Regions from separate parts of the Homo sapiens genome. Here regions 2, 3, 4, 5 and 6 are each linked to region 1. The links come from fine-mapping of genetic effects on gene expression. A gene starts in region 1. Each other region holds a variant in brackets. All regions are shown on one strand. Distances are from middle to middle.

Evidence for each region.
Region 2: its variant is fine-mapped to the expression of CEROX1 in whole blood (TOPMed, PIP above 0.99).
Region 3: its variant is fine-mapped to the expression of CEROX1 in aorta (GTEx, PIP above 0.99). The same link has a PIP of 0.9 or more in tibial artery.
Region 4: its variant is fine-mapped to the expression of CEROX1 in prefrontal cortex (CommonMind, PIP 0.95).
Region 5: its variant is fine-mapped to the expression of CEROX1 in whole blood (TOPMed, PIP above 0.99).
Region 6: its variant is fine-mapped to the expression of CEROX1 in whole blood (TOPMed, PIP above 0.99).

The regions. Positions count from the first base shown.
Region 1 is chr16:978,985-984,052 of GRCh38, forward strand. CEROX1 (cytoplasmic endogenous regulator of oxidative phosphorylation 1) reads right to left here and starts at 2,629. Exons shown (of 3, transcript NR_164343.1): 1 at 617-2,629; 2 at 41-126. SOX8 (SRY-box transcription factor 8) reads left to right here and starts at 2,786. Exons shown (of 3, transcript NM_014587.5): 1 at 2,786-3,360; 2 at 4,744-4,976. The coding sequence starts at 2,939. It also overlaps a transcript of LMF1 not described here.
Region 2 is chr16:920,248-925,315 of GRCh38, forward strand. All of the region lies in intron 3 of LMF1 (lipase maturation factor 1), which reads right to left. LMF1-AS1 (LMF1 antisense RNA 1) reads left to right here and starts at 786. Exons shown (of 2, transcript NR_110946.1): 1 at 786-920. The variant G/A (reference allele first, on the strand shown) is at 3,034.
Region 3 is chr16:1,011,936-1,017,003 of GRCh38, forward strand. No RefSeq gene overlaps it. Among named protein-coding and RNA genes, the nearest start is that of SOX8, 33 kb to the left of the region's middle. RefSeq lists a silencer at 2,421-2,622. The variant A/G (reference allele first, on the strand shown) is at 2,998.
Region 4 is chr16:813,234-818,301 of GRCh38, forward strand. No RefSeq gene overlaps it. Among named protein-coding and RNA genes, the nearest start is that of GNG13, 15 kb to the left of the region's middle. RefSeq lists a silencer at 489-568 and an enhancer at 3,907-4,407. The variant G/A (reference allele first, on the strand shown) is at 2,507.
Region 5 is chr16:843,165-848,232 of GRCh38, forward strand. No RefSeq gene overlaps it. Among named protein-coding and RNA genes, the nearest start is that of GNG13, 45 kb to the left of the region's middle. The variant C/T (reference allele first, on the strand shown) is at 2,442.
Region 6 is chr16:1,000,844-1,005,911 of GRCh38, forward strand. No RefSeq gene overlaps it. Among named protein-coding and RNA genes, the nearest start is that of SOX8, 22 kb to the left of the region's middle. RefSeq lists enhancers at 1,059-1,715, 3,367-3,416. The variant G/A (reference allele first, on the strand shown) is at 2,974.

The sequences.
Region 1 (5,068 bases):
TCCTGAAGTCCCCGCCTCTGAGAGGTGCTTTTGGAGTTACCTGCTGCCTGCCTCCCTCCACAAGGCCAGCGTCTGCAGGGCAGGAGCTGTGAGGGTGGCCCGGCTCCATCCTGTGTGGGAAAGTGCCTGGCACACAGCAAGTGCTTAATTAATACCTGGTGACCCTCAAGCCATCCCGACACCTCCCTCTCTGAAAGCTCCGTCCCGGCGTCCTCTCAGGCCTAGTGGCTCACACCCGCGGAGGACGAGGTCATTTTCCTGGGGACTTCAAGGTGGACCAGAGATGACTCTGGAAGGGGGGTTTGTGGGCACCACTCTGCATGGGGATCCTCACCCACATACCGCCCTCCCGGGAGTGCACCAACACGTCCTCAGCTGACTGGCCTAGGCCCCCACCACCCCGCCACAGAGACTCCCCACCTCCCCACCCCTCCTGTGGCAGCCTGCACGCCCAGCACCTCCCCTGGTGATCACTGCAACCTGGGGAAAGGAGCAGGCGCTGTTGGAGCCTGAGGCAGGGTCTCAGTTGCACAGACCACCGTGCCCCAGAGTCAGGGCCTGGATGCCACTCCCCAACCTCAGTCTCCCTTCCTCCAGGGGTGCTGGAGTTCCCCACCTGTGTCCCAGGGACTTGAAGCTTCCTTGGTGGATGGGGAGCCAGGAAGAGGCCACCCTGCCTGCTCGCAGACCTAATGCAACTGCTTTTCTTTGGCAAAGAGAGCTCTCCACGGAGGTCCTCACCCGGATGGCACTGTGAGCCCGAGTGGGCGATGTCTGCTCTCCCAGGGGCAGGGGGTGGAAGGTGGCACAGTTTGGACCGGACCCCCACCCTCACTGCTTCCACTTAAACCCCCACTTCTGCCTGCCTGCATCCCAGGCCTAACAGATGAGTTCCGCGGGCGCCCCAGGCGATGCTCTGAGGGCCACGGAAGGATGCGGGGACCCCGAGCGGAGGGCAGGGCCTCCAGGGGGAAGAGGCACTGCAGACGGAGGTGTGGGTCTTCCCAGGCAGGTGCCGGAGCCAAGCGAGATGGTGGGACGGGGAAGAGAGGGCAGGCCAGGCTGGCAGCCAGCTCTCCACCTACGATGCGTGGAGCCTCCCAACTCGCGCACTCCGTCTCCCCACCGCTGCTTCCTCTGACCTGGCTGCAGAGATGAGACCGCCCTCCGGGCAGGTGACACGGCCCTTGCTCTTCAGCCTGGAGGCCAATGCTTCCTCCAAAGGCCCTGGCCCCCTCAGCTCCGGGCCTGGCTCCGGTTGTTCCCAATGCAAAGCAGCAAGGGCCCCGGGGTCTGCGGACGGGGGCGGGCGGCCGCTGGGGGCACCAGCTCTCGGCCGGGCCAGAACAGGGGGTAGGAGGCGCGTCCTGTGCGGTCGGTGGCGGCCCCAGGTGGGTGCGGTGCGCTGGCAGGAAGCGGCAGCACGACCCCCGACTTTGCATCTGGACTTTTCTAGTAACGGACCAGCTCCTTCTGCCGACCGGGCCGGGGAGACCGCGTGGCTCAGTGGCTGCAGCGGCCACCGGCCCGGGCGTGGGGGCTTTGAGGGCACCGGCGCGGTAGGTCACCCGGGTTTCGCGGGCCGCAAGCTCGGAGACGCGCGTGTCCCGCGTTGGCTGCCTGACCCGGAATGGCGCAGCCCCTTCGCCTCCAGCGCGCTGGTTGAAAGGATCCGAGCCACCCTCGGGGACGGCCGGGCCGAGGCCACCTCGCGGGGCGGCCTTGGGCGGGGACCCGGACCCGCGGTTGGACGTTCGCCTCGGGGGGGGCAATGTCCCCTCTCCGACCCCGCGGTCCCCACCAGGGCGGCACACCCCGCCCTCTCCCCGCCTCCGCAGGCGCCCAGGGCTCACAGGCTCGGAGCGGCCTCCGCCTCTGCCGGACCACCCAGGGCCGCCCCGCCGGAGGGGCCTCCCCGCCCCCGAGCCCTAGGTCACGCCCGGAAGGCCCGGGGCCCCCGCGTCCGGCCACGCCATCCGCCCGGCGGCCCCAGGGACTCAGCGCCGGGGTCAGCGCAGGCCCCGCCCAGCGCTCCCGCCCCCTCCAGCTGGCCGGCCCCCGGGACCGCGCCCCCGCCCGCGCTCTCCACGCTCGCACTCGTATGGGCAGGGCGGCCCGGGGTCCCCCAGCTCCGAGCCGCGGCCCCTTGAAGCGCGTTACCTGGACGTGCGCTGTCCGCAGACTCTGGACGAGCTGGGCCTGGGCGCTGCGCGGCGGAACCGACCCTGTCCTGGACCGCAGGCAGCAGCTGACCCCGCGCCACCGGCCTGCGGGCGAGACCTCAGGCGCGAGACGGGCTGTGTGTGTGTGTGTGTGTGTGAGAGAGAGAGAGAGAGAGAGAGAGAGAGAGAGAGAGAGAGAGAGTGTGTGTGTGTGTGTGTGTGTGTGTGTGTGTGTGTGTGTGTGTCGGGGGAGGGGCCCGAGGACCCGCTTCCTAGCTGAGCGTCAGGACGGGGGGCGGACTCTCAGGAGCCGCGCGGCGCCCGCAGAGGAGAGGAAGCGCCGGAGACCCCCCTGCTCCCACCCGGCCTCCCTGCCCCGCTTCCTTTCCCGGGGCTCCAGAGAGGGGAGCTCCAGGCGTGGGGCGCCTGGCCCACGTGGTGCGGCGCCGGGCGGGGCAGGCGGGGGCGCGGCGAGAGCCGCGGAGCTTTCTTTATGGGTGGGGGGGCGGGGGCGGCCGGGCTCCGCCTCCGGGGGATCGGGGCGCGCTCCGCCAATGGGTAGCCGGGCGCGGGGCGGGGCCGCGGGGCCGCCGCTTAAAGAAACTTGTTGCGGGTCCCGCAGCGGGACCCGAGCCTCGGCGGCGGCGGCGGCGGCGGCAGGGGCGAGGGTCGGGGCCACCGCGCGGCGACCTCGGGTCCCGGAGCGACCGCAGGGCAGCCCCGGGCGCCGGCCCCGGTGCGCGTCTCCTGTGCGCGCCCCTCCGCGCGCGGCCCCGATGCTGGACATGAGCGAGGCCCGCTCCCAGCCGCCCTGCAGCCCGTCCGGCACCGCCAGCTCCATGTCGCACGTGGAGGACTCGGACTCGGACGCGCCGCCGTCTCCCGCCGGCTCCGAGGGCCTGGGCCGCGCGGGGGTCGCGGTGGGGGGCGCCCGGGGCGACCCGGCGGAGGCGGCGGACGAGCGCTTCCCGGCCTGCATCCGCGACGCCGTGTCGCAGGTGCTCAAGGGCTACGACTGGAGTCTGGTGCCCATGCCGGTGCGCGGCGGCGGCGGCGGCGCGCTCAAAGCCAAGCCGCATGTGAAGCGGCCCATGAACGCATTCATGGTGTGGGCGCAGGCGGCGCGCCGCAAGCTGGCCGACCAGTACCCGCACCTGCACAACGCCGAGCTCAGCAAGACGCTGGGCAAGCTGTGGCGGTGAGTGCCGGCGCCCCGGGGGCGGGGTTCGGGACCTTGGCCGCCCCTGGTCTCGGACTGCGAGCGGGGGCCTGGAGGGCGCAGAGCTCGCGGAGGTGGTGGCCACACGCAGGCTCCGGGCTCTGCACCCCGGGCGGGTGTCAGGGCGGGTCCCAGTGGAAAAACATCCTCTGGCCAGCCGGGGTCCGGCGCCAGCTATGGGAGTCGGGATCCGCGGAGGGCAGCGCCTGGGGTGTGCACCCTCGTGGCGGGTGCGCTCTGGAGCCAGTTCTCCTGGCGGGGAACACCCTGCGGAGGGCCATGGCTGGCACCCCGACGTGCCCTCCAGCCGTTGCGAGTGGCCCCAGCCCCGGGAGGCACGCCCGGCACGACAGCAAGTTGCATGCGGCTCTCTGGAGGTGCTCCCTCCTTAGAAAGGGCTCAGCTCCTCTAGCTCCTGGACCACCCATGGGGAGGGAGTGCGGCAGGCGGATGGGTGGGCAGCAGGTTTGCCTGCGAGTACCCTCCCCGCAGTTTCTCCCTCTCCTGGACACCCTCGGTCCGAAGCAGGGAGGGCAGGAGTGGAGATGACGGGGTGCGCCGTGTGCACGCCTTGGCGTGGTGGGGCCGGTCAGTTTTCCAGAAATTAGGACTGCAGAGTGAAGAACTTGTTGCTCAGGACAGGCCGCCCCCACCGAGTGTCCTCTGGTTGGGTTTCAAATGGTTCTCTTGGTTTGGGGCTCTGGTTCCCGTATCCTGCTCCTCACCTGGAAGAAGGGAGCTTGGAGCTTGCGTATTTGCACCTCCTGCCTTCTGTCTGGATCTAGGGCGCAGCCACGGGGCGCTGTGGACGGCAGGCCCCTGCTCCCCCAAGTCCTGCCGCACAGGCGGTTGGAGGTGAGCCTCGGGAAGAGTCCCAAGGAGTGTGTCCTGTGGCTCAGTGAGGACGGGCGCCTGGGCCCTGCCAGGGCTTCTGGGTGTCTGGGAATGGAGGGACAGCAGCCCAGCTGCCCGCCGAAGGCCGGCACCGTTCCCGGGAAGCCTCGCTTTTGTCCACCGCCGGCTGGGTCCTGCCCGCCTCCCCCGCCTCCCTTAGAAAGCCCCAGAGGGAGGGAACAGCAGGCCCGGAATAGGGGGAAATAGAAGGAGGAAGATGGGAGGCGTGGGGCTTGTTCTTCTTTGGCTGTCGTAAGCATACCAACCTTCCCAAACAGGCGCCGGCCGGTTCTCCCAGAGGAGTGTACTGCCTGGTGCCACGGGAGGCTCCGGAGCGCACGGCAGGCGGGTTTCCCTGGTCAGAGCCTCCTGGCCCCGGCCTCTGCTGCCGGTTCCCCCTGTGGTGTGTGCCTGCGCCGAGGGCACAGTGGGCGCCCTGGCCATCCCTGCCTCTGCCCTGTGCTGCAGCTTGCTGAGCGAGAGCGAGAAGCGGCCCTTCGTGGAGGAGGCAGAGCGCCTTCGCGTGCAGCACAAGAAGGACCACCCCGACTACAAGTACCAGCCACGGCGCAGGAAGAGCGCCAAAGCCGGCCACAGCGACTCCGACTCGGGCGCGGAGCTGGGACCCCACCCTGGCGGCGGTGCCGTGTACAAGGCTGAAGCAGGGCTTGGAGATGGGCACCACCATGGCGACCACACAGGTGGGCTCCAGGCCCCCCGCATATCTGAGGGTCCCTGTATGGGAGGCAGCTGTGGGGTTTCTGGCTGAGAAGGGTGCATGATGGTGGAGGGG
Region 2 (5,068 bases), 59 kb before region 1:
CGTCAGCCCCCACAGCACGCACTGCATGTCCACATTCCCCTCTCTACACACCACACCCCAAGCGCTGGCTCCACACGGACGCAGGAAAGCATCAGGACCGGAAAGCACAGGAAAACGTGCTTGCCAGGCAGGCGGGCTGGAGAGCTGAGCAGAGACACAGAGCCTCGGAGGAAGGCCAGGCCCACTCCAGAGCAAGAACTAAAATCTCCAGAGCACAAATGCCCCTGGCTGAGCTCAGCAGCAGAGTGAAGAACGAAAGAAAAGGCAGTGAACACGAAGACATAGCAGCCACAGTGACTCATTCTAGAGATGAGAGGCTTTTAGAAAACACCACACAGAAGCACAGGGCCCAGGAGCTCGTGGAAGGCAGGGAGAGGCCTGATGTCCATGTCCGTGGAGCCACAGGAGAGGAGAAAGAACATGGGGCAACCCCCCCAAATATTGGCAAAAATTATCCAAATTTGGTAAAAAGTAGGCATATCATAGTCAAGAAACTGGCAACGGAAGATAAAATCCCCAAAGCCATCAGAGAAACATAACACGTTACACTGGAACGTCAGGAATGATAGTCGACTTCCCGTCCAAAACGAGGGACAGATGGAGAGAGGGAGCCAGGCGCGGATCCTTCCCCAGGGGCCCCTGCATGCCCAGAGCAAGCATCTGCAGGCATCTCCAGCAGCAAAGGACACCGCTGTTCTCCCCGGGGAGCTTCAGTGTCATCAGAGCCTGAAGGAGGAAGCAACTCGGCACCACGTGGCCCAGAGCAGGCTCGTGAGCTGGCCTCGGTCAGCAGGTCGCCTGGGTCTCTGTCTCAGTGCTCAGCAGGGCGAGGACAGGACAGAACGGGCCCCATCACAGACTGCGCTTAGAAGGAACTCAGTAAAACAAAGACCATTTTCTTCTGGAGGCAACTCAAGGAGGTAAGACTGTGAGTCAAGCGCCTTGGAGGATAAGAAGTCCAGGTAAGTAGAAGGCAGGAGGAAGCTTCCCTAATATCACCTGCAAATCTGCTTCCACTGGGGCATTCTGTTCCCCTTTTCAGACAGCGCAGAGCCCTCCTGCGGTGAACAGTCGCCATAGCCCTTCTTGAGGGGCTGCTGGGTCCAAGACCTCCTGGGTGGGCACACGGACCTGCGCTCCCTGCAGAGACGTGGACAAGGCAGGCCCTGTGGAAAGTTCACCCGCCAGCCAGGCACCGGCACAAAGCCAAACCCCCCGGCGGAGTGTGTGGGGGCAGGGACAAAACGCTCCACGCGTTCTCACAGGGACTCGCCCTTAGAACAAGACAGCTGTATCTCTGTACAAATGCGGGCGGTGACGAGTGGGGATGACGGGACTTTCTGGGGTGACGGCCACTCCCTATACCTTGATGGGGCTCGTGCAAGTTCTTTATGGAGGGAAAGACGCAGTGTGCGGTGAGTTCCAGCTAATGATGTGGGAAGCATTGACACCAGCCCCACCCTGATGTGCGCTGAAGCACCGACGCAGGGACGGGGGACACGGGCGAGGAGACCCACTACGTAACAACGCAGCAAACCCCGTGAACAGAACCTACGGCATCCAGGCGGTCCCCGTGCGGGTTTTACTATACAATTCTTAGGAGAAAAACAAAGGTTAAAAGGTTTGAAATGTAAAAAAGATTGACTACATAGAAAATTTAAAAACAAAACATAAGTAAGAGAATCTACAGAAATAGGCTTAGCCGCTGAGAGGTGTTAGCAAGGTCTGGGCGGAACATTAAAAATCCTGTGAGTGGGCCTGGAAACCAGCGTTCCCCCACAGCTGAGGAGTAAGGGGAGAGAAGCAGCTGTTTATCCCAGATGAGGTCCAGAGAGACGCATTCCAAGCAGCCAACACGGGACAGAGGCGATGAGGGAGGGCGGCCTGGACAGAAAACTTCCAGGCAGATCGGGGCACCCTGTCTCGCAGGCCCAGCCATGCTCCTTGGCAGCAACCACCCAGGGGCTTTCTCACAGGCAGACCAGGGCAGCCTCTGGTCCCTGCACAATCTCGCCTCCGATGCAAGGTGGGAGAAGGCAGCCACCTCCCGAGGGGGGCCACAGAGGGGGTTCTGATCCAGCTGTGAGCTCTCACCCCCAGCCCACAGCGACTGGTAGCCAGGTAGGCAGAATGGCAGGCAGAGCGGCCACTGGGGAACTGATCCAGCAGGACCTGAAGCAGGGAGACAGCACACGGGCGTCCACCTAACGTGGCCAGCCCTTGTGTGGACAAACAGCTGAGAAAAGGCATTACTAACATGGACGTGAAGAAAGTCGCCTCGGTTTTTGGGTGTGATGTGGTGTTGGTGTCGTGTTGTTGCGAAGGCCCTGTCTGAAAGTCGCCTCGGTTTTCTGGTGTGATGTGGTGTTGGTGCGTGTTGTTGCGAAGGCCCTGTGTGAAAGTCGCCTGGGTTTTCGGGTGTGATGTGGTATTGGTGTCGTGTTGTTGCGAAGGCCCTGTGTGAAAGTCGCCTGGGTTTTCGGGTGTGATGTGGTGTTGGCGTCGTGTTGTTGCGAAGGCCCTGTGTGAAAGTCGCCTGGGTTTTCGGGTGTGATGTGGTGTTGGCGTCGTGTTGTTGCGAAGGCCCTGTGTGAAAGTCGCCTCGGTTTTCGGGTGTGATGTGGTGTTGGTGTCGTGTTGTTGCGAAGGCCCTGTGTGAAAGTCGCCGGGGTTTTCGGGTGTGATGTGGTGTTGGTGTCGTGTTGTTGCGAAGGCCCTGTGTGAAGGTCGCCTGGGTTTTCGGGTGTGATGTGGTGTTGGTGTCGTGTTGTTGCGAAGGCCCTGTGTGAAGGTCGCCTGGGTTTTCGGGTGTGATGTGGTGTTGGTGTCGTGTTGTTGCGAAGGCCCTGTGTGAAAGTCGCCTGGGTTTTCGGGTGTGATGTGGTGTTGGCGTCGTGTTGTTGCAAAGGCCTGTCTTCAGGTGTACGAGGAGGCATTTCCAAATGCAGGAATGTGATGCCTGGGATCTGCGTCATGGCAAAACAGCAGGGGCAAGGAGTGTGGGGCGGATGTGGCAGCTGCTAACACTGGCAC[G/A]GTGCACTGTGGCCTACGAGGGTCCCCAGCTGTCCACAGTTCATTCCTCCCCATTGCGTGGCTTCCTGAACAGCCATGTATTTCCTAACTCTGCCGGCTGAGGGGCTGAGAAGCTGCAGCACCCCAGTAGTAACGGGCACCCCAGCACCCACGTCTTGGTCTCTAAACACCTTCCCCACTAAAGCATCAGGCTTCTCAGGGAAGCCAATAGTCCCGGCTACTCAGGAGGCTGAGGTGGCAGCACAGCTTGAGCCCAGTAGGTTGAGACTAGCCTGAGCAACAGAGCAAGATCCCAGCTCTAAAAAAGAGAAATCCTCCCTAAGAGCACTGCTTTAGAAGGACGTGGAGGAGGGGCTGTGGACTCTGAGCCTTACCCTCAATACAATGAGGTCACCTGCTCCTGGGAACCATCTTAGGATCCCTGGAATGGGCAGAGGGACAAACTCATCAGTGGCCCCCAATCTGGCAGAGTTAACCTGCCCCACAATCTCCAAATCCAGAGGCCTACAAAGCATCTGCTCCAAGCAGTAACAATGAGGTCCTGAGCGGAAATCTTCACAAAGTGGAGAGAAAAAACTGATGGATTGTCCAATGTGTTTGATTCTGTAAAAACAACAGTATTGGAAAGGGTTGACCAGTTGTGCTGGTAAAGTTGGAACAAATGAGTGAGATATGATCAGAGATGAAAAACGAAGCCAATCAAAATAGAAAAGGCAACTATGAACTCCAGGAAAAATGAAGAGTTATTAGAAAAAAAGTTACTATAGTTCACTATTTGGCTCAGCAGTCACAATATTTACAGAGTCAAAATAATGTAAAGACAATCAAACTAATAAAAATTATACTTGTGACACAGCTATACTGATGATGATGAGAAGAACATTAGGGTGTGTGAGGGCAATCCCTGTCGTTCATAAGAGGACATGTATACACAGTGTCTAACCGTGGTATGCGAAGAATAACCCATATAAACCTATCAGTCAGAAAGACAGACAAATACCAGAGTTAAGTGCAGGAAGTGATAAAAGGGTTGTCTGGAGAACAGCATGTGGCTGAGAAGTGGTACGGCAAGGGCTTCTGTTTTTATTATAAGTCGTGTAATACAATTTGACTATTCATGCACATGCCCATTTTTTTTTAATAATTAAAAGAACAATCTTCAGGCCACACTGGCCACAGTGTAATAAAATCAAAGTTGAGAAACAAAAGGCCACCTGTAAAACCCTGAGCATGTGGCATTTTCGAAGCATTTCTCCAGGCTGTCCTTGGTCTAGAGGCATTAGCGCTGAAGGTTATAAAACCACACCATCGGCCACTGTCAGGGGCAGCCGGGGGTCTCAGATGACAGGGTAGGGCAGGGACATACCCAGAAGTGGGTAGCCGCCCTCCAGTTGGCTTTCATTAGCAGAGAAGAAGAGACAGAAAATAGCTGAACCAACTCCAGGCACTGGAAATGATAAACCACTTTCTCCCAGAAAAAGCAAGCAACTACAAGAGGCAAAAACGAATGAGCTAGAGTATATTTTAAAATTCTGATAGATAAAACCAGCTCTTTGAAAAGACCCATAAAGGGGATGATCTATGGCGGTTTAGGCAAGGGAGAGTGAGGAAAAGGAGGAAACAAGTATTGAGGCCCAGGCGGGAGAACGGATGCAGACCTGCTAGGGGGTGGCAAGGCCACCGCACAGACTGTGCCCTCCAGCCGGCAGCGGGGGGTGGAGGGGAGGAGCGGGTGCAGTCAGACCCCCGTCCGCAGAGTGCTGGGTGCGAGTCCCCAAATGCCTGCTGGGCTGAGCTGCCCCCTGCGGAATGGGTGGTGACGAAACCGCCCTCTTCAGCCACACAGGAAGCCCCTTGCTCACTGTCACTGTCACTAATCCACTAGGAATGAAGAGCAGATGCCACCAAACATCCTGCATCCATACAGTTAAAAACAATTAAAAAGCCACGTTGAAGATTCTAGATTAAAGCCACTCAAGTGGATTCAGCACTGGAAGTATGAATCACAGCAACAAAACACTTCTTCAGTAGTTTA
Region 3 (5,068 bases), 33 kb after region 1:
TGGCGTCCAGGAGACCATCTCCTCCGGTGGGGTCAGACCACAGAGGGGCCCTCTCTGTCTCTGCCCCTTTCCCTGGTGTGAGCAGGAGCACCCGGGCGACAGGGGCGCCTCTTCCTTGCTGCCCCACCCAGAGGGCAGCACACAGCTCAGTGCAGGAGGGACAGAGACCTTCAGGCCCGAATTACCTCCGGCCAACACTCAGCCTGCCCGCAGGACCTCGGGCCACCGTGGTCCTGTCCGCCCGATATTCTTCCAAGTCACCCTCAGCTTCGAGTCTACTTTGAAAGGAGACTCCCCATGGCAGGTTTGAGACACTGCCGGGGTCCCTTCCTGTGCACATTGGAAGAGACGTGGAGGCTCCGGCAGAACGATCTGAGCACCTGATTCCGCACTGGGGCCGCAGCGCGGGCTCCCTTTCAGGGCGTTGGGGGCCACGCTTTGCCCCTCTGTTTAGTAACACTCAGGGGACCCTGAAGGCAGGCAGGCAGGGTCCGCGGGATGGGGAGTCTCACAGCAGCCCACACCCCAGCATCTTGCTGGGAGGAGCTGGGGAGCTGGGTAAATCGGGGAAAATCCATCTCCAGGGCTCCCCTGAGGCTGTCCCCATTCCCAGGAAGGCAGGAATTACCCCACCCTCGGCCAGCCTCTGCCTGCCTTTCCCAAGATGATTCCAGAGCCCAGCAGCTCCTCTGGGACCCACATGGACTAGGCAGGCGGCTGGAGTGCTGTGGAGCACGGGGAAGGGCCATGAGAGCCTGGGACCCTCAGGCTCAGGACACCATCCTGGTGGCTGCTGATGGGGGTCAGCATTCTGCCCCTGCATCCTGCCCCTCTGCCCAGGGTCCGGAGGACTCACCGGGCTGTGCCCCCACCTGTGTGCCCTCCCCATGTCAAAGAGCAGGCGGGGGCGCCTGACAGGGTGAGGCCGAGGGTCCAACCCTCAGCCCCATACTGGCCGCAGGTGGTTCCTGAAACTTGTGGGACTGGAACCTCCTGTTGGCTGAGACCCCGGGGGGTGGTTGCAGAGGTGGGGCTGGTCTGGGAGTAAGCAGGGCAGGACACCTGCGGGGTTGCTTGGCCTCAGGTGGGCAGAGGCTGTTGGGGGCCTGGAGAGCCTGGTGTGACCTGGGGGCAGGCTGGGGTGGGGGATGAAACCCACAGGTGCCCCCAGTCAGATGCACACCCAGGACACACATGCGCACACGCAGGACACACGTGTGCACACCCAGGACACATGCGTGCACACCCAGGACACATGCACGCACACCCAGGACACGTGCACACACAGGACACACGTGTGTGCACCCAGGACACACGAGTGCACACATAGGACACACACGTGCACACCCAGGACACACGAGTGCACACCCAGGACACACCCGTGCACATGGAGGACACACCCATGCACACACAGGACACACATGTGCACACACAGGACACACACGTGTACCACTGTGCAGCCCTGCGCCCCCTCACTGCGTCCTGTTGCAGGCCTGTGTTGCTGTTCCATGTGCTGCCCTCTGCCTGCACGCAGGTGCCCATCGCCAGCGGGGCTGGGATCTTCCTGTGGTGCTCCTTGGCCCCTGCGTTCTGCCCGCCTAAGTGGCCCCTCCGGCTGGTCCTGAGCATCTGCTTGCTCAGCTCTGTCCTGGGCTGGGCTGGTGGCATTGAGGAGGAGCTGGCTGGGCGCTGGGTGAGGCAGGACCAACCCAGGACAGGTGTCCAGCTCTTGACAGGAGCTCCTGGCCCAGGCTGGTGGCTGGGGAGGGGCTGTAGCTGCCAGGGCTGGGAGCGCCTCCTCCACCTGCATCGGACCGTGCTCCGGAGGCCACGGTGCTGTGGAGGGTGGTGGCGGATCTTGGGCAGGCAGAGGCTGCCAGGGGGCCTGGGCGGGGCCTGGGGTGACCCAGGGGCAGGCCAGTGGGCTGTGGAGACTGGTGGTGCTCCAGAGGCCACAGTGCTCTGGGCTTAGAGCAGCTGCACCCGGAGGCATGCCCTGGACGTGGGTCCAACTCTGCGTCATGCAGCTGGGGGGCAATGGACGCGCCCCCCTTCCTGGCCTCGGTGTCCTCCCTGTAGCTGGGATGGCTGAGAGGAGAGGGGAGAGAGAATTGGTTTAGGGGACCTCGCCCAGGAAAGCTCATGATCCACTCTGTACCCACTACGGGGAGGGAGCCGAGTTGTGGGCCCAGGACACCCCTTCTGGCTGGGAGGAAACGGTGGAGGGGCCTGGAATTCCTCCAGGCCTGGGGGTTGCTGGGAGCCCTGATTTACGGCCCCAGCGCCTGCAGCCCCCCTCCTGCCCTGACAGTTCTCGTTGCAGCCTCCAGGTAGGAGGTGTTGGCGGGGCTGGGGCTGGGGTGGGTTTCCAGGTCCCCTCTGCCCATCCTAGGCTCAGTCCTGTGAGCTGAGTGGGTGAGCTGTGTCTGTGGGGCTGGGCTCTGTGTGTGGGCTTCTGAGGGGTGGCCCCGGGCCCCTGTGAGTCTCGGTCTTCCAGTCCGTGGAGTGGGGTGGACTTGTTCTCTGATGCTGGCCGAGGGGGCCTCCTACAGTGGGGGCTGTGGCCTCCATGGGTCCACCTGCCCATCTGTCTGGCCAGCCTGCCCTGCTGGAGGACTCAGTGCCCGAGGCCGGCTTCCTTGTTCACCAAAGGGAGAACAGAGCCATGCCTCCCTCCCAGCCCTGAGCAGGGCCTGTGCCGGGAGGGCCAGTTCCCCTGGCCCAGAGTCGTCTCCCTGTCCCAGCCAGGCTGGAGGTGAGTGGGACGAAGGGGTCCCCAGGGCAGGTGCTGCCGGTGAGGAGGAGAGTGGCTTCTCCGAGGTTGCAGCGAAGGACGGCCAGGTCTGGAGAGGATGTGGCCTGGCCAGTCCTGACGCCGGAGGTGACGTGGCGAGGGCTGGAGGTGGCTCCTCCTGGGAGGCTGCCCCGGGACAGAGGTCTGGGCTGCGTGTGTTGGGCCTGGCCCACTCTCCGTGGCCAGATGCCACCCACCCCCAC[A/G]TCTGCTCAGAGCAGAGGGCAGGCCAGCAGCTCATGCCAGGGTAGGCAAGGCCTGTAGCCCTCAGAGCCTGCAGCAGAACATAGAGCACACTCAGCCCACTGTTTCCCATGGATCCCTAGAGCCCCAGCACTGCTGAGATAGTCCCCAGGCCTCAGTCCCACCCCCAGACACACACACGCACACACACACACAGAACTCTTGTCGCCCAGTCTAAGCCAGCTCACCCGGCAGGAGCACATTCCTGCAGGCCCCGGGGATGCTGGTGTTTCAGGATTGTGTCGAGTCCACTGCAGAGGTTTCCAGAAGAGCCGACAAGAGGCGGACAGGGCGGTGGACAGGGCGGAGCTGCACTCACAGGGGTGGGCGCAGCCGTCCTGGGAGCAGGGGTCTTGGCTGAGGACCCCGGGCCCTTCTGCTTTGAGCTGTGGGTCTGAGGGGCCTCCGTGCGGGGCTGGCCCTGGGAACTGTGGTCACTTGAAGCCCACTCCTCCTGCTGATGTCCACCCAGGGACAGGCCTCCTCCAGCAGCTGGCCTCAGAGAGACAGCCGTGTGCCCAGACCCACAGGTCGCGTGCTTCTGCTCTATACAGCCTTCATGGGAGACTGGGGTCTCTCCAGCCAGGGCACCAACAAGCGCCCAGACCCATTCCTGGCCCTCGTGTTCATAAAATCCTTGTGGCTTCAAATATTTTTCAGACTTTAGTCGTGGTGGTTGTTGGAAAGGGCCAGCTTCCTGCTGCAATGATCCCTGAATCCTCTCCCCAAGCTCTGCAGGCCTGGTCTGATAGGTCACCCACAGTGGCGTCTCCTTGAACTTAAGAGCAGGCTGCAGGCCAGGCGCGGTGGCTCAAGCCTGTAATCCCAGCACTTTGGGAGGCCGAGGCGGGTGGATCACCTGAGGTCGGGAGTCCGAGACCAGCCTGGCCAACATGGTGAAACCCTGTCTCTACTAAAAATACAAAAATTAGCCAGGCGTGGTGGTAGGTGCCTGTAATCTCAGCTACTCGGGAGGCTGAAGCAGGAGAATATTGAAACCAGGAGGTGGAGGTGACAGTGAGCCAAGATCACACCACTGCACTCCAGTCTGGGCAACAGAGCGAGAATCTGTCTCAAAAAAAAAAAAAAGAAAGAAAGAACCGGCTGCAGAGGGCCCTGGGTTGGAAAGAGGGGGCATGTGGTGGCCCCTGCAGGGGGTGACATCCTGCGGGGGTGACATCTGCCTTCTAGGGAATAAGACCCTGAAGCAGGCAGGTGGGCGAGGTGGGGAGGCCTCACAGGGTTGGGAGCAAAGGCTCCAATCCCAACCACTGAGGTGCTGGTCTGGCTTCTGCCGTGTATCAACTGGTGACCTTGGGCCTGCCTCAGTTTCCCCATCTACATAGCCCTCCTCCTGCCCGGACCTTGTTGGGATTAGCCAAGTTGACACCTGACAAACACCTGGGCACACTCAGCGGAGTGAATCGTCCACAAATGGTACCCCACAGCCCCCCATACTGCGGGTGTTTCCATCTTTGCTTTGCCCGCCGGGAAGCTCTGTGTGGAGTGTGACCCACCCTGGCACTGGCTGCCTCTTTAGGGTTCTGGGCACTCTCTGAACTTTGTAGTTTCTTTGGCATTTTTTTTCTTTCCTTGTTTGCTCTTTATTAATTTTTTCATAATTTTATTTCTCAGACATAATTCACATAAGAGTCACCATTTTAAAATGGACGGCTCAATGATTTTAGCACGCCCACTAAATGTGCTGGAATTGTGTAACCATTATCACCATCGATTTTATTTCATTTTTAATTTTTGTGGATACACAGTAGGTATATATATTTATGGGGCACATGAGATGTTTGGATGCCAGCATGTGGTGCGAACTAAGCATGATCCGTTTTAGAACATTTTATCACCTCCCAAAAGAAATCACCTAACCTTGGCCAGGCACGGTGACTCACGCCTGTTATCCCAGCACTTTGGGAGGCCGAGGCGGGCGGATCATGAGACCATCCTGGCTAACGCAGTGAAACCCCGTCTCTACTAAAAACACACAAAAAATTAGCTGGGCGTGGTGGCGGGTGCCTGTAG
Region 4 (5,068 bases), 170 kb before region 1:
AGAGGCCGAGACCCCCAGGGAGCGCCCAGGCCTGAACCCCTCCTGCGCCGCTGACCCTGCAGATGCTGCCGTGGGCGGCGACCGCACAGACATCCCCTCTGCTATTGCTGCGGGACCGGCAAGGACGCCGGACCGACACGGCCTCCCCATCCCTGGGTCCACCCCGACTCCCATGGTGGGGAGCGGCCGGCTTGGAGCCCCTGTGGGACGGAGTGGAGGTGGAGCAAGTGCCCGGAGCTCTCGGCCATCATGTGCGAATGTTTTGCTCCGTGCTGACGCCTCCCTCGGCACCGTCCTGTCTGTGTTGTGGACTGGGCAGCTCTCACGGGGTTGGGCGCTTCTGCCCCCGGGGGACGCTGGCCGGCATCTGGAGACGTCTGTGATCTCCGCTGGTGTTGCCGCAGGCATCTGGCTGGTGGAGCCCGGGGAGGCCGCCCAGGACCCTGCGACCCGCAGGACCGCCCCGCCGCGGAGGACGGCCAGCCCCGAACCCCCAGCGCCCGGGGCACCCCTGCCTGCCTGCCCTGGGCGGATCCCCGGGGCCGCGCGGTTCGGGCCGCGCTCCTGCCCGCTGGGGTCTCCCGCCGTCCTCGCCGTCACCACCGGGTGGAGCCACAGGTCCGTGTGATCGTCCCCGTGACCCCGGGTTCCGGAAGGATCCTCACCCAACGCTGGCCCAGCCCGGCTCCCAGGACCCTTCACAATCCTAAAACCATTCGGGCTTTTGTTTACGTGGGCGGCCGCTGTGGACATTCACTCTACCAGAAACAGAGCATTTAAAAATGTTCACCTTTTCACGTAAAAATAGCAATAAATCCATTGCACGTGAACATAGCATTTTAAGGAAAAGCAACTGTTTCCCCATAAAAAAAAAATGTAGTGGGAAGAAAAAGAAGGCGTGACTTTGTGCTGGATTCTCATGTCTGCGTCTGCTTGCAAGCCGGTGGCCTCCGGAACATTCCGCCCCACACTTTCAGGAGAGTGGGAAGGAGGCCGGGCGCAGCGGCTCAGGCCTGTAATCCCAGCACCTGGGGAGGCCGAGGTGGGCTGATCACCTCAGGGCGGGAGTTTGAGACCACCCTGGGCAACATGGTGAAACCCCATGTCTACTAAAATGCAAAAATGTAGCCAGGCGTGGTGGCGGACGCCTGTAATCCGAGCTACTCCGGAGGCTGAGGCACCAGAATCACTTGAGCCCTGGAGGTGGAGGTTGCATGGAGCCGAGACTATGCCATATGCCATCGCACTCCAGCCTGGGCAACAGAGCGAGACACAGTCTCAAAAAAAAAATAATAAGAATGGGAAGGAAACCGTTCTTAGAAGTGTCAGGAAAACAGGTTTGACCTCGGGGACCCTGGAAGCTTTCTGGGTCCCCTTTGAGAAGCATGGTCTGGACACAGCCGCCAGATGCCTGTTGTGGGGTCTTTACCAACGTTGCTTTGCTTCATTCATTCAGAGATGGAGTCTTGCTCTGTTGCCCAGGCTGGAGTACAGTGTGGCACAATCTCGGCTCACTGCAACCTTCGCCTCCCGGGTTCAAGCGATTCTCCTGCCTCAGCCTCCCGAGTAGCTGGGATTACAGGCGTCCGGCACCACGCCGGGCTAATTTTTTGTATCTGTAGTAGAGATGGGGTTTCACCATGTTGGCCAGGCTGGTCTTGAATTCCTGATCTCAAGTGATCCACCTGCCTTGGCCTCCCAGAGTGCTGGGATTACAGGCGTGAGCCACCATGCCTGGCCATGCTTTGCTGCTTTTAAATCTTTTTGTTGAAGACGAGGATCAGACATATGTTATTACAGTTTTCAGAGTAGAAACCAGCTTGAGAAAATCCTATTTATAACCACAGTCACTCTGGGAGGTGAGACTCCTCAGTCCAGAGTCACTGAGGTCCGAATTGTTGGGGAATTACTCACAGAAACCCCAGAAGCAGCTGAGGAGAAGTGGGGCCGAGATGGGGGCCCGCGAGTACAGCCAGGCTGTGCAGAAACTCGGAGTGTGGCACGTGGGCTGCTGGGGCTCAGCCAGGCCCGTCTCTTCTCTTTTGAGGTTGGTGGAAATGCTGGGCTGATGTCATTATGGGTGAATCGTGCTACCTTAAAAAGTTTTTTTTGAGACAAAGTCTTGCTCTGTCACCCAGGCTGGAGTGCAGTGGTGTGATCTCGGCTCACTGCAACCTCTGCCTCCTGGGTTCAAGCAATTCTTCTGCCTCAGCCTCCCGAGTAGCTGGGATTACAGGCGCCTGCCAGCACGCTCGCCTAATTTTTGTATTTTTAGTAGAGATGGGGTTTCACCATGTTGGCCAGACTGGTATTGAACTCCTGACCTCAAGTAATCCATCTGCCTCAGCCTCTGGAAGTGCTGGGATTACAGGTGTGAGTCACCACACCCAGCCAAAAAATGTATTTTTTTGAGACAGGGCCTCCCTTAGTCACCCAGGCCAGAGTGCACTGGCGCCATCCTAGCTCACTGCAGCCTTGACCTCTCCTGGGCTCTAGTGATCCTCCT[G/A]CCCCAGTCTCCTGAGACCACAGGTGGGTACCACCGTGCCTGGCTAATTTTTTAATGTTTTTTTTTTTTTTTTTTGATAGAGACGAGGGCTCAGTATGTTGCCTAGGGTGGTCTTAAACTTCTGGTCTCAAGCGATCCTCCTGCCTTGGCCTCGCAAAGTGCTGGGATGACAGGAATCTTAGTACTTTAAACAAATAACAGGTTTTCTTTTGGGCAGCTGTGGGTTTTCTGAAACACTGAGGAGACAGAGCCGAGCCCCCATCTGTGCCCTCCCCGCAGGGTCCCGTGGAGGTGACACCCCACACTGGCGTGAACCAGGATCGACGCAGTTTACCGGAGTCCTCGGCCTTCACCGAGGGGCCTTTCCCCATCCTGGGACAGTTCCCGTCTGGCTGCCTGAGCACCCCTGGGCTGTGAACCCCCCTGGGCTGTGGCCATTTCTTGGACTTCCCTTGGTTTTGGTGGTCTGGGCGGTTTTGAGGAGGAAGGTCGGGATTTCCTAGAAGGTCCCTCAACCGGGGCTTACCATACTTTTCTCGAGGCTAGAAGGGACCTGTCACCTTCCCTGTAGGCACCCGTGTCCCTCCCCTGGCACTGGGAGGAGGTGAGGGGAACCCCAGAGAAGAGGTCACGTAGGGTCAGGCCTGGAAGCCAACAAGGCACGGGGCCAGGGGAGGCCTGGTGCCCTTGGGAGGTGCAGGGGTCCCGGGAGAGAGCTGAGCACCAGGAGGGGTGCAGAAGGCTGCCCCCTCCACACCTGCTGTGCCCCATTTGTTGTGGGTGGGGGCAGGGGTCTACCCAGCGGGAACACGTGGGGCAGCCCCCCTCCCCTGGCCTGGGGCCTCCTCAGCAGGGAGCAGAGGCTGTGCTTTCTTTTTTTTTTTTTTTTTTTTTTGAGACGGAGTCTCGCTCTGTCACCCAGGCTGGAGTGCAGTGGTGCGATCTCCTCTCACTGCAAGCTCCGCCTCCCAGGTTCACGCCATTCTCCTGCCTCAGCCTCCCGAGTAGCTGGGACTACAGGCGCCCACCACCACGCCCGGCTAATTTTTTGTATATTTATTAGAGATGAGGTTTCACCGTGTCAGCCAGGATGGTCTCAGTCTCCTGACCTCGTGATCCTCCCGCCTCGGGCTCCCATAGTGCTGGGATTACAGGCGTGAGCCACAGGGCCCGGCCCGAGGCTCTGCTTTCGTGGGGGGCTCTGGGTCTCTGGTGGCTGGACTCGGCGGAGGGTCCAGGTGTCCTCTTGGCTTCTCTGCACAGGCCTCAGCCCACATCAGGCACCCCCTGCCCCGCAGCAGAGCTCGCCCCTCCAGGCAGTCTCACGGGAATGCACGTTCAGGCCGCCTTTCCCCGGAACCCGCAGCGGCCTTTCTGGAGGCTGCTTCTTGGTGACTGGGGGCTCCTTGGAGCCGTCCCCAGCCTCAAGCGGCTGCATTGCAGCTCAGGGACCCCGAAGGGAGGACCACGTTCTGCCGCTGAAGACTCGGAGTCGCCTGGCAAGACGGAGCGAGAAGGGGAGGGTGGCTGGCATGGGGACTCTGTCTGCTGCCTCGCACCGCACCTTGGAGGACGCTCCGGCCAAGGCTGGGAGGGGCGAGTGCGGCTGCAGGCGCGCGGTGGCGAGGGAGGGTGAGGATCTGACCGGGAGGCGAGGAGGGAGGCTCTGGCAAGACGCAACGCTTTGGCGCCACTGCCGGCCATCCCCTTGCCACCCACCATCGCCCGCCAGGCCCTCACACCTACCTGGTCCTGGCGACAGCCGGTGTGTGAAAAGCCTGTTTCCTCCCCTAGAAAAAGCACGTTTGGCTCCGCTCTCCACTGACACGTTTTTAGCTGAGTGACGATGGAAGCCGCTGGCTTTTAACAGACGGTCTTAACGAGCCTCTGCTCCCCGGCGACCAGCAGACGCGGGCTGACCCACGGTTTTACACACCACGTCTGCGTGGCGGCGGCCGGGCGGCCCCACGGGGCCCGGGCAGGAGGTGACGGCAGCGTTTCTCGCCGCCTTTGCTCAGCGCGCCTCTCATCCCCTCTCTCCTGTCGACTCGCGGCTTCCTGCAGACCCTCGGCCTGTCTGCGGCCCCTCGCCCGCAGCCTCCCCAGCAGCCGAGGTTTCCTATAGCATTAAAAGCAGGAAAGAACCAGCCCTGCTCCCCAGGAACTGAACTTCTGTGGCTCATCTTCAGAGAAGCCACTGTTGAGTGGGGCTCCTCGGGGGTGCTCCAGCTGCGGGTGAGTGACATGAGCCAGACCTCCCCGTTTTTTTTTTTTTTTTTTTTTTTTGAGACTGTTTCGCTTTTTTATCCCAGGCTGGAGTGCAGTGGCGTGATCTCGGCTCACTGCAACCTCTGCCTCCCGAGTTCAAGTGATTCTCCTGCCTCAGCCTCCTGAGTGGCTGGGACTACAGGCGCCTGCCCCACACCCGGCTAATTTTGTATTTTAAGTGGAGATGGGGTTTCACCATGCTGCCCAGGCTAGTCTCAAACTCCTGAGCTCATGCCCTCCTTGGCCTCCCAAAGTGCTAGGATTATAGGTGTGAGCCACTGCCCCCGGACTGAG
Region 5 (5,068 bases), 140 kb before region 1:
TTTCACCCTTTTTTTCGTGTGTCTCAGACAGCTGGCTCCTTAAATATTAATCAGGGTCATTGAGATGCAAATGCGTGCCCACCACAGAAGGCCCCGCAGCTGCAGGGCTGGCACTGAACATCCTGGTGGCCCAGATGCAGCCCTGACCAGAGCCAGCGGCGAAGACCACCTTCCCTGAGGACAAACGGGCGCCGGCCCCTCGACAGGAGCAAGGGTGGCGTGGGCCTTGCTGGGTCTTGCTGGGTCTTGCTGGCCGTGGCTTTCCTGGCTTTCACTGCCCTTAAAACGAGGTGTCCTGGGGCCGGGCGTGGTGGCTCACGCCTGTAGTCCCAGCACTTTGGGAGGCCGAGGTGGGTGGATCATGAGGTCAGGAGATTGAGAGCATCCTGGCTAACACGGTGAAACCCCGTCTCTACTAAAAGTACAAAAAATTAGCTGGGTGTGGTGGCGGGCGCCTGTAGTCCCAGCTACCCCGGAAGCTGAGGCAGGAGAATGGCGTGAACCTGGGAGGTGGAGCTTGCAGTGAGCCGAGATCGCGCCACTGCACTCCAGCCTGGGCGACAGAGCGATACTCCGTCGCAAAAAAAAAAAACAAAAAACAAGGTTTCCTGGACAGGCACTCGCCAGGGCGCTCTCGAAGCCGTGGGGCTGGGGGAAGGCGCCGTGTGTCCGGCCTGTGGTGGGTTCAGAGGCTGAGTTTAGAAAAGTCCGGCCTGGGAAGCACATCACTGGGTGGACACGGTGACCTGGATGCAGGGGGGCGGCTGTGCTCGGGACACGGTGACCTGGATGCAGGGGGGCGGGGTGGCTGTGCTCAGGCTGCCCGGGGTCGACCATCAGCAGAAACAAAATAGGATGGAAGAGGCAGAGAGGCCAGGAGCCACAATGGCCCCGCCCGGAGCCGGGTCTCCTCCCGCTTCCTTAGCACACATGTTAGAGGACAAACCGCAGCTCAGCTCTTCATAATAAACACAGTGGAAGCTTCAGGGACTCAGAAGTGCAGCCCAGGCCGGGCGTAGTGGCTCACGCCTGTAATCCTACCACTTTGGGAGGCCGAGGCAGGTGGATTACTAGATCATGAGTTTGAGACCAGCCTGGCCAACATGGTGAAACCCCATCTCTACTAAAAATACAAAAATTAGCCGGGCGTGGTGGCGGGCGCCTGTATTCCCAGCTACTCTGGAGGCTGTGACAGGAGAATCACTTGAACCCGGGAGGCGGAGGCTGTGGTGAGCCCAGATGGCGCCACTGCACTCCAGCCTGGGTGACAGAGTGAGACTCCGTCTCAAAACAACAGCACAACACCCGGAACTGGAGGCTCTCACACGCCACAGTTAGAGAGATTTTCTGATCATAATAGTTTCCGCGTGGATTGGAACTCACGCAAAGCAGCACACACAGTGGACAGCGAGCTCCAACATGTCCACGGGTGAACATCAGCGTGGCCACCACCAGGTCCAGAGCACAGTAGACCCTGTGCCGCCAGTGTCCGTCGCCTTCCACACGTGGCCGCAGTTCTGTGCATGGGGCCGCCCGCCATCCTGCCGCCTCTGACCTGGGCTGTGGGCTCGTGACACGTGTCTGAGCTTTCCAGTCGTGGCCGTGACGCTCTGTGCGGAGGCTCCGTCCGCGTGCTGCCTCCGTCCCCTCTGCCCTGGACGGCCACTCACTACCTTTGTCTCTCACCCTGGGGGTTTCATGACCCCGGAGCCTCCACGTCCTGGTACAGAGCCTGCCTCTCCGGGACTGGGCTTCGGCCGAGCAGACACCGCCTAGCTGCTCTTTGACCAGCGTTCTCTGCTCTGCGTCTGGCTGGCATCGGCGGCTTGCTGAGTCCAGCCTGGCATCTCGCTGGCATCGGCGGCTCGCTGGGTCCAGCCTGGCGCTGACACGTTTCTGTGCTCATTTCATTTTACAAATCAACTCCCCAAGGTGAGGTGGGCTCGTGCCAGCAGGTGGGAGCCGGTCGTGCACGTCTGCCCAGCTCCGTGCTGAGTGAGGACGTGTTGGGGGCTTGAATCGGAGATGGGGGCGGGCACGGTGTTTAGATCACAGAAATTCAAAACCACATAAATCAGGGCTTTATCCAGAGAGCCGGGCATGATTTCCAAACACAAAATGCACCCATTTAAATGTAACCGACGGTTTCTGACAAGGGCACCCGGCACCACAGCTGAGATTCAGAACATTCCTCTCCCAGATCTCCCTGCGTTCCGGCCCCGGCAACATGGGCCTGCGTCTGTCACTGGAGTTGGGCCGCGGTCCTCCCTGCAGTTCCGCGAGTGGAGCTGCGCCCTGTGAGCTCTTTCGTCTGTGTTCTTTAGCTGAGCGTGGTGCCTTGGAGGGTCCGACGCTGTGCGTATCAACAGCCGGATGTGCCTGTTTCTGAGGACGATGGCTCCAAGATGACCCGGTTCACCCGTCCTCCTGCTGACGGACAC[C/T]GGCACCACCCCGGGTCCTGGCTGCAGTAAATCAACCCGCTATAAACGCTGCTTACACGTCCTTGTGCTTTCATGTCTCTCGGGCAGATACCTAGGAGTGGAGTGGCTGCTTCCTGAGGAAGTTCACGCTTCATGTTTCCAGAACTGACACTTCTCCAGAGTGGCTGCCTCCTCCCGTCCTGGTGGGCGTATGAGGCTTCTCCTCCTCCATTTTCTGGAAGAGCTTGGATAGGGCAGTGTTATTTCTCTACCGAGTATTGCATGGAACTCGCCAGTGAACACATCTTGGCCTCAAGTTTTCTTTGTGGAAAATTTTAAATTACAAATTCAATTTCTTTTTTCTTTTTTTGAGATGGAGCCTCACTCTGTCACCGAGGCTAGAGTGCAATGGTGCGATCTCCGCTCACTGCAACCTCTGCTTCCCGGGTCCAAGTGATTCTCCTGCCACAGCCTCCCGAGTACCTGGGATTACAGGTGTGCACCATCATGGGGGCTAGTTTTTGTATTTTTGGTAGAGACGGGATTTCACCATGTTGGCCAGGCTGGTCTCAAACTCCTGTCCTCAGGTGATCCACCTGCCTGGGCCTCCTAAAATGCTGGGATGACAGGCGTGAGCCACTGCGCCCGGCCCAAATTCAGTTTCTTCAATTATTATGGGACTCTTGGGCTTTCTTTCTTCGTCGGCTGTAGGGAGAGGATTAGGGTTTGGGCTAGCGTTCGTTTTAGTAATCTGTGCCTTTCACGGAGTGTTTCTCATTTAATGTAGGGTGCTGAGTTGATTAGAATAAAGTTGTTCATAATATTACCTTATTATTCCTGTAGCATCTCTGTGGATTTGTGGTGATATCTTTTCTTCTTGATATTGGCTATTTGTATTTTCTCACCTTTTTGCTAGATCATTGCAGCTTGGGGTTCACTGACGTTGTTCTGTAATGGATCCCGGTTTCCTGTAAACCCACGTATGTCCCGTGTCTGTAATGCGTCCCGGTTTCCTGTAACCCGTGTGTGTCCCGTGTCTGTAATGCGTCCCGGTTTCCTGTAACCCGTGTGTGTCCCGTGTCTGTAATGGGTCCTGGTTTCCTGTAAACCCGTGTGTGTCCCGTGTCTGTAATGGGTCCCGGTTTCCTGTAACCCGTGTATGTCCCGTGTCTGTAATGGGTCCCGGTTTCCTGTAACCCGTGTGTGTCCCGTGTATGTAATGTGACCCGGTTTCCTGTAAACCCGTGTGTGTCCCGTGTCTGTAATGTGTCGCGGTTTCCTGTAACCCGTGTGTGTCCCGTGTCTGTAATGCGTCCCGGTTTCCTGTAACCCGTGTGTGTCCCGTGTCTGTAATGCGTCCCGGTTTCCTGTAACCCGTGTGTGTCCCGTGTCTGTAATGGGTCCCGGTTTCCTGTAACCCGTGTGTGTCCCGTGTCTGTAATGTGTCCCGGTTTCCTGTAACCCGTGTGTGTCCCGTGTCTGTAATGGGTCCCGGTTTCCTGTAACCCGTGTGTGTCCCGTGTCTGTAATGTGTCCCGGTTTCCTGTAACCCGTGTGTGTCCCGTGTCTGTAATGGGTCCTGGTTTCCTGTAAAGCTGTGTGTGTCCCGTGTCTGTAATGTGTCCCGGTTTCCTGTAAACCCGTGTGTGTCCCGTGTCTGTAATGTGTCGCGGTTTCCTGTAAACCCCTGTGTGTCCCATATCATCTGGACTAGGTACCTTCTCCCAGCGGCCCGGGGTGCTGACCTGGCTCAGTGCCTCTTCTTTCCTTTGCTGAGTGTTCTTTCCTCTTTTTTGTTGTTCAGATGAGAGTCTGTTGATGTTCCTCCAGCATGTCCACATGGCTGCGGGTGAAGGGCTTCACAGTAGCCCACCGTGGGCAGGTGTTTAAGGAACAACTTCCAGGTTAGGAAAAAGATGAGGCAGAGGAGATGGCCCCACCTGCCACCCAAGAGAAAAAGAGGCTCAGGGAGGGGAGGAAAGGATGTTGCGGCCCGCCATCTGTCTGCACACCAACCGTCAGAGCTGACGGAAGCTTTCGCCAACTTGCTTCCAGCAATGGGCCAACGACAATCAAGGCGGCTATGACGGCCAGTCCAGGGCTGGTTTGAAAGCTGTAACAGTTTGGACAGTGTGGTATGACCTGGGCAGGTATAGATCACACTGGGTCAGGTGTAAACCCTAGAACGGTGAGCCACCAACCCAGACTCAGCGGGTCAGCTGCGGCCCCTGGCCAGGCGGCCCAGGCAAAGTAAGGTGGCCGCAGCCCTGCAGGGAGGGTGGCACTGTCCGCAAACCCTCCCGGTGCCCCGGGTTCCCCAATGCGCTCAGACCTGGGGGTGGGCACGGAGGCCCCCCAGCCTTCCCCTGCCTAGTGCCTGGGGTGCTTCTTCCCAGCGCCTGGAGGTTTCCATCCCTCCCGCACACAGCGCTTGGAGCAAGATGGGAGGGAGGTGCCTGCTTGCTGCCTCCTGCTGGTGTGTGGGAGCCCAGGTGAACACTGGGTGGTGCGGAAAGCCACCAGCGTGATGTGGGAAGGCCATTTGCTAAGCGCCAGGTGGGCCCGGGTGTGGGCTGGGTGGGCAGCCTGGCTCGCGGCGTAAGGGGCAAGCTATCCAGGCAGCAGTGGGCTGAGAATTGCCGGCATCA
Region 6 (5,068 bases), 22 kb after region 1:
GGCGGCCGGGAAAAGCCCCCGGGACCCTGACACTGGCAGCTGTCTAAAGTCCGTGAAATCCCAACCACTGCTGGCCACGGCATCCTGGGCCCCGACGTGCAGGCTGCCCAGTGGCGCCTCTAGGAAAAACTGCTGGGTGTGAGGGGCAGATATGGGGGCTGCGAAGTGAAGCCTGGAGGTTGCGGAGTATCCACTGGAGGATCAGCCTGTCGGGGTTAGGCCCAGGGGTCCCCAAGCTGAGGGATGTTCAGGGCTAAAGCCAGGAGAGTCCCAGGCAGACGTGTGGACGGTGGGTCTCCCCTGTTCAGCTCCCCAGGCGCTGGCCTTTCGGGTCTGGAGGTGCTGCCCCTCCCATTCAGTGGGGTAGGGCCCTGCCTCGGTGCCCCCGGGACACGGCAGCTATGAGCACCTGGCTGGAGTGCTGAGGGCCTCCCAGAGCTGGGGCCCAGGTGGCTTGGAGATGCCTCCTCAGCTCAGCATTTACCGCGGGGTAGGCAGCTCCAGATGCCTGGAGCTGAGGGCCTGGCTGCGGGGGTGTGGCAGTGCCACATGGCTGCCCAAGTAAAGTGCCATGAGCCGAGTGGTTTAGAAAACAAACCTGTCCTCTCACAGGTCTGCAGGCCAAAAGTCTGAGATCAAGGCTTGGGCAGGGCCACGCTCCCCAATGAGACTCCAGAGGAAGATCCTTCCTGCCTATTCCAGCTCCTGGTGGCTCCAGGTGTCCCTTGGCTTGTGGCCACATCGCTCCAACCTCTGTCCCGGCTTCACGCGGCTGTCTCCTCTGCATGTCTGTCTCCTCCTCTGCTTCTATGAGGACACTCATCGCTGGATTTAGGTCCCACCCAGATAACCCAGGATGACCCCACTGCAAGATCTTTTGATCAATTACATCTGCAAAGACTCCATTTCCCAACCAAGCCAGAGTCACAGATTCCCAGGGTCAGCTGTGGCCACCGTTCAGCCTGAAACATGCCGCGTCACCTCACCCAAGCCTCACATCGCCCCGTGAGGAAGCCACCGTGGAGGTGAAGTTCAAGTTCTCACCACCTGCCCTGTATGATTTCTCCTCCAGGGAACCCTGGGTGTCCACGGAGGGGCCGATGGCTGTCCCTGGCCCGTCATGGGGCCCCAGCTCTGACACCTGAGCTTCTGAATTCACTTGTTTAGTTTTTCAGGAACATTTTTTCCTTCGGTGCCTTTCCAGGGAGCCCCAGGGGTGGGGGCGTGGAGTTCTCCCCTGGGCCTCCGAGGGGCTTCTGCTGCCTGAGGGGTCCGTCCAAACTGTAGCTCAGATCCGCCGCTGCTGCCCTCCTGGCCCAGCGGAATGCTGGCACCTCCAGGAGCTCTTGGCAGTGAGCCACGTGGTGGACAGTCCCTTGCTCTGAGGGCCCTGTCACCTGGGCACAGTTCAGGGTCCCTTGGAACTGGAGATGTGGCAGGAGGGAGGCCCAGCCCCCTTCTGGGCTCCCTGAGGCTCCACTGAATCTTTGGAGGGGAGAGACGCTGGATTCCTGGTGGTGACCTGAGGGCTCACACAGGTAAACCAAGCAAGACCGTGGGTCTGTGGCACCCCACATCTGTGCACCTGTGCAACCGCAGTCTGATGTCCCTCCCCGGTGAAGGGACCCGCACATGTGCACCTGCCGCAGCCCCGATGTCCCTCCCCGGGTGAAGGAACCCACGGACGTGGCTCATCCATACCGCGGAACGTGAGCCATGAAAAGGGGCAGCCTCGGCTCAGCCACCGCAGGGAAGGACTCGACACACGCCGAGCAGAAGAGGCCAGGCCTGAGAGGCCACCTGCGATTCCATCTGCGGAAATGCCAGAAAGGGAGGTCCGCAGACGCAAGAGCTGGACTGGGGGGACGGCCGAGGGGCGAGGGGTTTCCTTCCGGATGAAATTGCCCCAGAACGACATGCAGGGCGTGGGGAGGTGGCTGCAAGATACTGCGGCCCCGCTGGATGCCACAGCACCCCATGCCGTGAACGGCTAATTCTACGCCATGTGGATCTCACCTCAATCAAACAATTGGAAGATTCCCAGCAGCTGAGATGACTCACGTTCGGGGGTGACTCATCCAGGCCACCGGCATCGCGTCGCTTAAAGACAAGCCTGACCTTTCCCCAGAAGCCTCAAGACCACAGTGGCCTCCCACGGCGGAGGGCAGTGCCCAGGGCTGGTGTTCATCCAGGGCACGGGACAGGCCTGAAGTGCAGACATTTCCTCTGCCAAGCAGTGGACGCAGGCTCGGCCCCCGCTGGCCAGGGGCGGCTCTAAGTTTGGAAAAACGAAAGTCCCGTGGCAGAGTGGGCCCCTGGGGTGGGATCCTGGAGCCAGGGCTGGGCCAAGGTGTGGGTTGAGAGACCCGGGGGCCTTCCCTGCAGCTGGCATGGAGTGATGGGGAGGGGGTGCTGGGTGGAGAGGGAGCTATAGAGGCCACAGGAGGGGTCCCTAGCCTCCAGCACCATGGCCGTGGTCTGGGGGGCATCCTGGCAGCCCCATGGAGTGGCCGTGTCCAGGGACTGAGCTCCAAATGAGGAACCGTGCGGGGTCCAGAGACCCTGCACTCACGCGGCCGGGCCCCACCTGCTGCCACAGCCCCCTCATGGGCCTCGCTCACACCCACTCCTGCACACAGCATGCGGCCCCACAGCCCCACGCCAGACAGTGTCCAGGCTTTGTGGAAAGTGCTGCTCTGACGGAAGAGGCCTGCGCAGGTCCTGCTGGCCAGGAGCCCGGTGGTGGTCCCGGGAAGGGGTGGATGGCTGCCAGCTGCTTTCCTGGGAAAAGCCCAGAGCCCCTCATGCCCTGCACTCCTCTGATGGCAGCCTGGACACGGCACAAGGGGACGCCCTGGAAAGCCCTCGGCACGCGGTCGTGGCGGCATCAGGCCTCACGAGCCAGGGCCCATCAGAGGCGGAATCTGACCTGGGCTGAACTCAGGCCCCCAAGGTGCACTGGTTGAAGCCTTA[G/A]AGGAGGGACACGGGGGGCTGCGACCCCACAGGCTGCTGTCCTTAGAGGAGGGACACGGGGGGCTGCGACCCCACAGGCTGCTGCCCTTAGAGGAGGAGGCAAGGTCCACGGCAGGCACAGAGGGACCAGCCCGAAGGCCCCTCAGGGGTCTGGAGGGCTCTACCCCCTGAGGTCGTCCACTGTCCTGGCCCGAGGACCCTCTGCTGCCCTGTGTGGACCCCCTGGGCATGAAGCACATAGGGCAGTGGGTGGCACTGACGGAGCAGCCTTCTGGAATGTGCCGCCCTGGCTCGTGCCGGCCCCGCGTGTGGCCCCGGGAGCTCAATTTCCTGACAACACTCAGTCCTGAGGTTTCCTGCCCCCTCAGAACCATTGATGAGTGTTTTGTGGTTAAGAAAAAGAAAAAGAAAACAAAACCAAAACCTGTTATTTTTCCCAAGGTGAACGTGAGCGCCCTGTGAGGAGGCCCAGGCGATTTCCCACCCTTCACATGCGTCTCCAAGCCCGGAGCACGGCAGGCACAGGAGTGACCAGCAAGCCTGGCCCCAGCCCCAGCCCCAGCCCCACTCCTGGGCCTGGGTCAGTATTGATTCAGGGAAGGTGGCTCCAGCCTTGCCCATGGTGCGGGGAGCATGTGGGGTGCCCCAGGAGGCTGTCCAGAGAGACCCCTGGAGCCGGGTATCCACACAGACACGCAGGCGGGGAGGGGGCAGAGATGGGGGAGTGAGAAGAGATGGGGGCTGGGCGCCGTGGCTCATGCCTGTAATCCCAGCACTTTGGGAAACTGAGATGGGTGAATTGCTTGATCTCAGGAGTTCAAGACCAGCCTGGCAACATGGCAAGACCCCATCTCTACAAAAAATACAAAAATTAGCTGGGCATGGTGGTGTGTACTTGCAGTCCCAGCCAATCAGGAGGCTGAGGTAGGAGGATCACTGGGGCCCAGGAGGCAGAGGCTGCAGTGAGCCAAGATCACACCGCTGCACTCCAGCCTGGGCGACAGAGTGAGACCCTATCTCGAGAAAAAAAAAAAAAACAGATGGGGAGGGAGAAGAGACGGGGGAGGGGGTAGAGATGGGGGAGGGGACAGAGGGAGCAGAGATGGGGGAGGGGGTAGAGATGAGGGAGGGGACAGAGGGAGCAGAGACAGGGGAGGGTGTAGAGATGGGGGAGGGGACAGAGGGAGAAGAGAAGGGGGAGGGGGTAGAGATGGGGGAGGGGACAGAGGGAGAAGAGAAGGGGAGGGGGTAGAGATGGGGGAGGGGACAGAGGGAGCAGAGATGGGGGAGGGGGTAGAAATGGGGGAGGGGACAGAGGGAGCAGGGATGGGGGAGGGGACAGAGGGAGAAGAGACGGGGGAGGGGGTAGAGATGGGGGGAGGGGACAGAGGGACAAGAGATGGGGGTGTTCCTGTAGAGGCCCCAGGTTCACCTAGCCCAGCTGGCTCTCTCCACAGCATCCTGAACCCAAGGACTTTTCAGCTTCTTGCTTACCTCCTAAGACAGAGAGCTCATTCCCTGTGCAGGCCTCCTGTGCTGGGGTTGGGGAGCTTGGAGTGTGGCAAAGTGTCTGATTCCTTCTTCTTCCTTCAGCTGTGCACCCAGGGTCTGGAGCGACAGAGCTGGGCGTGTTACAAAGCCCCTCACCGTGTCGGGGCAGGCGTGCTGGGGACGGAGCTGGGCACCAGCTTTTGTGGTCCTGTCCAGCAACCCCCGCAAGGCTAGCGAGGGAGGTGGGTGTGAACAAGTGAGTGAATGGAAAATGGGCAGATGGATGTGTGGTGTAGACCCAGGAGGACTTGGCGCTCCTTCTGTCTGGAGAGGAGTGAACCCTCCCCGCAACACCCGATTGGCAGATTTTCTTCCAGCCTCCACGGTGGCCGAGCCAAGTGTTATAAAAACACAGGAGAGTATGTCAGGACAGGCAGGGCCACACTTTGCCGCAAGGTGACAGGTTAAACAAATCCCTCCTCAGAATTTACTGCCTTCATTTTTGCTTCAGAGCAAGGCCCTGCCACGGGATGTATTTCATGCAGAAATATCTCCCCTGAGCGCCCTGGGGGGCAGGACGCCTGCTCGCAGAAGGCGGCTCTAG